Homo sapiens: one gene and its partner. The protein of the gene in region 2 interacts with the protein of the main gene of each other region in a biochemical or structural test. Each region holds a gene or a part of one and is shown on either strand. Other genes may lie near its edges.

Region 1 (3,552 bases), on a different chromosome or scaffold from region 2:
ACACCTCCAGGGAGGCTCCCAGAGGCTCAGCTCCTCAGGGTTTCTGACTGTTCTTCCAAATTAGTCTTGTGTTTTCATTTTGTCTGTGTTGGTGCAGTTCAATGGGCCCAGACCCTAAGAGTGTTTAAGTGCTATTGAGTTATCAGTTTTCAAATCAAGGTTTTGAATAAAACGAGTATCTTTGCATTTCAAAATGCAACCGTGTAAGTCATCTTTTAACGAAAGGGCATTATGCACATATTAAATGCATGCTAATGTAACTTTAACAATATTAGTACAAATGGTTTTGGGAAAGAGTCACCTTTTGCTTCCTCTGCCAAGAGACTGTTAGATTCATTTTCAAATGTTTTTGTTTTTGTTTTTTAAATTCTTTTTTTAAATGAATGAAGCAAACTCATCAATCCATCATTGGCTGTTTTGTTCCAGGGATGACAACGGGCAGTAGGTAGGTTGGTATCCCCTTTTGATGAAGAAAATTTGGGTTTTCCTAGCGGGTTAATGCAGTGTGTCATTTAAACAAAATATTAACTTGGTTGGTACTCCCTGTGAGCTGGCATGGTTGCTATGTAACAGAATCTAGAAAGTGAACTGCTGAAAATCTGGGCTTTCGGCACTTCGGAGGATATTCTTTCGGAATCTGTGTTGAAAGAATTCCTGGCAGCCAGCCCATCTTGTCTCTCCCTCCTGCAACTGAGTTGGATAATCCTTAATGAGAATGCTGGCGTACAGTGCAGAGGGCGTCCGTGCAGGGTGACACATTTCAGAGCTCCAGAGGCTGCCTTTTGGGTCGGTGGGGTCACGGCAGCCTTTGACAGGTGGACAGAAGGAGGCTTGGAAAGAACAGAGCCAAGCATTTGTTCCAATTCATCTTGTTGTTGGTAGCCAGAGAAGGGATTTGTTTAAAGTAACATTTCTAAGCTGTTTTCCTCAGCATAACATCTCTGGGAAAATGTGTTTAAAATGCTTGCTGTTCTTTGAGGGGAAAATGTAGCAGTTTGTTTCTCTGAAAAAGTTTTATCAGCTGATGAATGACTAATATTAGATTCAGTTGGTTGCTTTGCTATGCATAGAACAAAACAATTAAGTGCTATGGTACCCAATTCAAATAGGTGTTAACTGTATATAACAAAATACTTAATGCCCAGTAGGATGTATGCCTACTGTCATTAGTTTTCTTTGTTAAAGAAATAATTGTATTTGTATTCCTATGCAAGTGGACGTGCTGATAGCATCTTTCTTTGGTGTGGAGGACTTCCTGCCTACTGCATTTGTTAGAAGGGGATGGAGGCAAGGGTCGGTTTCCTGTACCTTTGTACATTTCCATAAATGCGTGCAAGTTGTATTTTTCTCTCCAGGCATTAAAATAGGCTGTTACTTAAGGCCTGACAGCTCTCATCTACCATTACTACAACACTGGAAACTCTTTCGTGAAGTATAAATTACCTTTGGAGTGAATTGAATGTGTGAGTAGTCTGTGGAGACGCTAGACACTGTCGCTTTGCAAAGTAAGTTCTGTCTTTTGGCATCCCCTTCTCAATTCATTCTGCCTCTGCTCTTGTTTTCCTAAGTAGACTTTTATCTTTTTTGAGAAAGAGAATTTTCAAATGGCAGAGAGGATGGAACAAAATGTTGGGGAATCTCGGGCCTTCTGTTAGCTTGCCACTAAGTTACAGAGCTCAGCAAGTAGCCTGCGCCATGGTTTTCCAGCCAGATCAAGGGGTTAAAATAGAGTGTGTCTTTTCCTAACCTGTCATGGGATGGGGATTCAGTCTTCTCCCTGAAAATTGTCATGTGTGGTCACAAAGAGATTACTTACAGATCAGTACAGTGTGGTTGAAATTACTTATTGATTGGGGATTATTTACTATCTTTCCATTGTCTTTGGAAAATGCCTTCAAAGGACCTCTTAAGTCAAGTCTCTGATTCTGGTTAATTTCATGCTTCCATTGTGCACTTCATGATTTTTAGTGGTTTTCCAACACCTCTTTGATGCACCCCAGAAGTCTGAGCTGACCTGACTCATCTAACAGGAGCCTGGTCACATATCTTTCCAGGGTAAGGCATGATAGGCCCTCTCTCCATCCCTTTACCCTCTTACTCCTCAAGAAGACTGTTGGCACTTTTTAGGAATCCTATAGGGTTATAATGTGTGACTTCCTGGCTGCCAGTGTGTTTGTAGCAGATGGGCTTGGCAGGTGGCAAGAGCTCATTGGAACTTTGCCTGCTCACCGTGCATATCATATGGGGCCCAGAAGGTCAAGCTTGGGATTTGGCCACATTCACTGCATGTTTTCTTTATGTATTATAAATCTATATATTCATTCCTGGGCTATGTAGGTAAGGACAGTGAAATCAACACGAACTCCTCTGTTCTTTCCATACCTTAATGGTTTGCCTGAACATTGGTCCCTGGCTTCTTACCCCCTGCCATATATCAGGGGGTTCTGCCTGCTGAGCCCAGAGAATGGGTTTTTAAGTGATGTTGCACGTGGAAATAGGTCTCAGTGTTTGGGCTGCATATTAGGGTGAGTAGCACAAAATATGGCAGGAGTGTCACCGCCAGCAGTCATTGCACTGCCTTGGTGCCTTGAATTGCAGGCATAGTGGGTTCAGAAAGAATGATTTAGGAAAAGACATCTTTCCCGAAGCCAACAGGGTGGCCATCCACAGGGGCAGATCATACCTGACGATTCATAGCAGCTAAGAGTTCTGCTGACCCCTGTCACCACTCTCCAGTTCCCCTGCCACCACCCTCCAAATCCCCTGCCAGGCCCATCTCAGTTGTGGAGAAGCTGGAAGAAGATCAGGGAAAGGAACGCCTTCTTCCTCCCCGTGTGGTTGCACGACACCAGAACATTCTTGCTTGTTTGATGCAACCTTGATCCAAGTGGTGGAGGCGAGGTTGTGCTCTGTGGGCACTCCTGCTACCCCCTTGGAGTCCTAGGCTGCTGGAAACATGAAAGAAGCTGAACATAGTTTTAATGAGTTTGGCAAGAACAACTGTTTGAGCAGGTGGCTGCTGTGTGGTACAAGATCATTGGGGCTAAATTTATTCTGCGGGCTTTGTTGGCTGGGTCATGTCAGACCCTTGGGTCAGGCTTCTGAAAGGTCCCTGCCCCTTTACTTTCTGATGAATTGAGACCTCAGCACAGGAGCTCAGATGGAGCTTGGAACAGGCAGTCCTGCAAGCAAAGAGCCCCAGGGCCTCTGCCCACTTCTCCAGTCAGGCTGGAGAGGGGAGAGAAGTTGGGGAGAGGAGGTGTCCTGCCCAGCTCCCTTCTCCTCTGTCCTCTTCCACCACAGCAAGCGCTATGTTACCTTTGTGGGGATGTAAAGGCCTTCCATTCCCAATATTACCTCTGCTCTACAGATTGTGTGAAGTAATGAGTCATTAAGAACAGAGCGCCCCTTTTAAAGAAGCTGATATTCTCCACTCATCTTTGCATACCTCACTATTATTATTCTCAGAACTTACCTTTTGGGCATGCCACAAGACGCTGGGGATTCTGGGACCATCTTGAAGCCTGTAGTTTCTTTCTCTTTGGTCAAGGT
Region 2 (3,552 bases):
ATTGTTGCAACAGCACTATTTACAATAGCAAAACTAGTACGCTGGAAAGGACTGGTGTCCAGTGGAAGGGGAAAGCTGCGTGAATCAGCACACATCCACCTGATGGATTATAAAGTCAGCAAGCTGGTAAACATGAGAAGAGGTGGTGGCAAGGTGAGACAGGGTTATGGTACGATGTTAAAAGCAGCAGCAGAATGTGAAAATCTCTAGGCATGTAGAAAGGCTGGGAGGGGAATTCAGGGGGCACTTCTTGTCTCATATGTTACTGAGTGATGGAGCTATGTACTGCTGAGATATCAGTAATTCTCAAAACCTCCTGGAAATCACTGCAGGGTGCAGCTGTGAGGAAGACCCACGCAGATTATAAAACCAGCACATGGCACAGGGCAGGTCTGGGTCAGCCTGAAGGGGTACAGGAACATGTCTGTCTCTTCTCAGCTGTTTTAATCTCCCCTCTGCCATGTCTCTCCCTCATGCAGGACTATGAGTTAGAAGCAGAAAAACTAAGGTCTCTTCTCGACTTGGAGAATGGAAGGAGAAGCCACGTGAGCAAGAGAGCCAGGCTCCAATCTCCTGCCACCAAAGTGAAGGAAGAGGTGAGTTCCATGGGCCAGGCGGCCTCGGGACTGAGGTGGAGGCCAAGCTGCCCTGCTCCCCAGGGAGCATGGTGTCACACGCTGGCCTCAGAGATGCACACACAACAGGGAAGCCACTGAGAGCCCTCCTGCATGCAAACAGGTTTGGTAAGAGATGAGGAACTTGTTCTAGGGCAGTGACATCAATATGCCTAGAAAGACAGCAAGGCCGGGCGCAGTGGCTCACACCTGTAATCCTAGCACTTTGGGAGGCCGAGGTGGGAGAACTGCTTGAGCCCAGGGGTTGGAGACCAGCCTGGGCAACAAAGCAGGACCCCATATCTACAAAAATATTAGCCAGGCGTGGTGGTGCAAACCTGTAGTCCCAGCTACTTGGGAGGTTGAGGAGGGAGGATCACTTGGGCCCAGGAGTTCAAGGCTGCAGTGAGCTACAATCACACCATGGCACTTCAGTCTGAGTGAAAGAGATTCTGTCTTTAAGAAATAAAAATTTTTGAAAATGCAGCTGAACAGAAGTGTCAGGGTCAGAACCATGGATCTGGGAAGTTCCTGTTTTGCTCACCTCAGTAAGTACAGTGGAGGGCTGATATTAGTCTCCTGTACACACAAGAGAGAACACTGGTGCTCTAAGAGGCAGAAAGACTTGCTCAAAGTCAGTGTGGCCAAGACCCTGGCCTGGATCTTCTGCCTCGAGATCCATTTTTCTCTCCACCGGTGAGGCTACAGTCTAACTCCAGGCAGGAGTGGGCAAGAGCTATGCCTCTACCCCCAAATTCCACACTTCTCAAGAACCACGTCCACGCTGTCTAGCTCTCTGTTGCTTACCCTGTTGACACCTGTTTGTTGACCGCTCTCCTAATCCTCTTCTCTGCAGGAAGCAGCACTTGCCGCCAAGTTCACTGAAGTTTATGCCATCAACAGACAGAGGCTGCAGAATCTGGAGTTTGCTCTGAATCTCCTCAGACAGGTAACTGATCTTAGTAAGAAATTCTACTTCAGGCTGTTCTAACAGGTGACAAATACAGACTCTGTCTTAGAGAAATGGTTTGTGAATTGATGGAAGTGTCCCCTTGCTAACGTTTCTGGGCAGGGCCAATGCAAAGACTGGCCCGAGCCAATGCTTCTACTGACATGAGAACTTATTCAACTCAGTAAACATCTGCTGAAAGTGAATGCTATTTTCAGCTGGGCATGGTGGCTCACGCTTGTAATCCCAGCACTTTGGGAGGCCGAGGCAGGCGGATCACCTGAGGTCAGGAGTTCGAGACCAGCCTGGCCAACATGGTAAAACTCCGTCTCTACTAAAAATACAAAAATTAGCTGGGCGTCGTGGCGCATGCTTGTAATCCCAGCTACTCAGGAGACTGAGGCAGGAGAATTGCTTGAACCCAGGAGGTGGAGGTTGCAGGGAGCTGAGACTGTGCCACTGCACTCCAGCCTGGGCAACAGAGCGAGACTCTGTCTCAGAAAAAAAGAAAGAAACAAAAGAAAGTGAATGTTATTTTCTGAAGTCCATGATGTTGATGACAGCATTGTTTTTTAATAGCAAGACACTGGAAGCAGTTCACTCTTCATCAGCAATGGGCTAAACTGCGGTCTGTCCAGAGAGCGGAAACAATGCTGCTGGTAAATCCTGAAGCAGCACTCTCTGTGCTGAGCTGGAATGAGCTCTGTAAGTGCAGTGAGCAGCAGGAATACCATTTGTGCAGGAGAGATAAACACATGGTACATACTACAGACAGATATTCTTGTGTGAGCACAGATAGCATCTGCAAGGCTGACAGACACGCCCTAGGACGGGGACCAGAGGTGGGAGACCGTGGTTTCATTTTAAACTCTTCCACAGCTCAAAAATGTTTTACCTGATTAAAAAAAACCCCAAACTAGTTGTTTGATCCTTTTTGAAAGTAACCCTAGAACTCTACAACTAACATGAACTGGCACTGAGGGAGTCCCTTGGGGACCACAGGACAGCCACTCTGACCAGGTGGGGACAGGCCCTACATGTGCTGCCAGAGCCTGGCTTTAACCTTGTCTTGTCTTCTCCATCACAGCAGCCGGAAGTAGAAGTGACCCATGAGACCCTGCAAAGGAATAGGCCGGACTCTGGAGTGGAGGAGGCGTGGAAGATCAGGAAGGAACTGGATGAGGAGACTGAGCGGAGGCGGCAGCTGGAGAACGAGGTCAAGAGCACCCAGGAAGAAATCTGGACCTTGAGGAATCAGGGGCCTCAGGAATCGGTGGTGAGGAAGGAGGTGCTCAAGAAGGTGCCGGATCCCGTGCTGGAGGAGAGCTTCCAGCAGCTGCAGCGGACGCTGGCAGAGGAGCAGCACAAGAACCAGCTGCTGCAGGAGGAGCTGGAGGCACTGCAGCTGCAGCTGCGTGCCCTGGAGCAGGAGACCAGAGACGGGGGGCAGGAGTACGTGGTCAAGGAGGTCCTGCGCATCGAGCCTGACAGGGCCCAGGCGGATGAGGTCTTGCAGCTGCGGGAGGAGCTGGAGGCACTGAGGCGGCAGAAGGGCGCCCGGGAGGCAGAGGTGCTCCTCCTGCAGCAGCGTGTGGCCGCCCTGGCTGAAGAGAAGAGCCGGGCGCAGGAGAAGGTCACAGAGAAAGAGGTGGTGAAACTGCAGAATGACCCCCAGCTGGAGGCAGAGTACCAGCAGCTGCAGGAGGACCACCAGCGCCAGGACCAGCTCAGGGAGAAGCAGGAGGAGGAGCTGAGCTTCCTCCAGGACAAGCTCAAGAGGCTAGAGAAGGAGCGGGCCATGGCCGAGGGCAAGATCACCGTCAAGGAGGTGCTCAAGGTGGAGAAGGACGCGGCCACCGAGAGGGAGGTCAGCGATCTCACCCGCCAATATGAGGACGAGGCTGCCAAGGCTCGCGCTAGCCAGAGGGAGAAGACGGAGCTGCTCCGAAAGATATGGGCCTTGGAGGAGGAGAACGCCAAAGTGGTGGT

The links. Proteins that work in one complex are often made in the same cells at the same time.
Region 1: the proteins of PPL (region 2) and KAZN form a complex in vitro, tested with the Homo sapiens proteins (one study listed by BioGRID).

The regions. Positions count from the first base shown.
Region 1 is NC_000001.11:14,601,650-14,605,201, forward strand, and holds part of KAZN (kazrin), read left to right. Parts: intron 1-3,552. UniProt on the Homo sapiens protein: Component of the cornified envelope of keratinocytes. May be involved in the interplay between adherens junctions and desmosomes. The function in the nucleus is not known.
Region 2 is NC_000016.10:4,885,146-4,888,697, reverse strand, and holds part of PPL (periplakin), read left to right. Parts: intron 1-479; coding exon 480-596; intron 597-1,470; coding exon 1,471-1,563; intron 1,564-2,650; coding exon 2,651-3,552. UniProt on the Homo sapiens protein: Component of the cornified envelope of keratinocytes. May link the cornified envelope to desmosomes and intermediate filaments. May act as a localization signal in PKB/AKT-mediated signaling.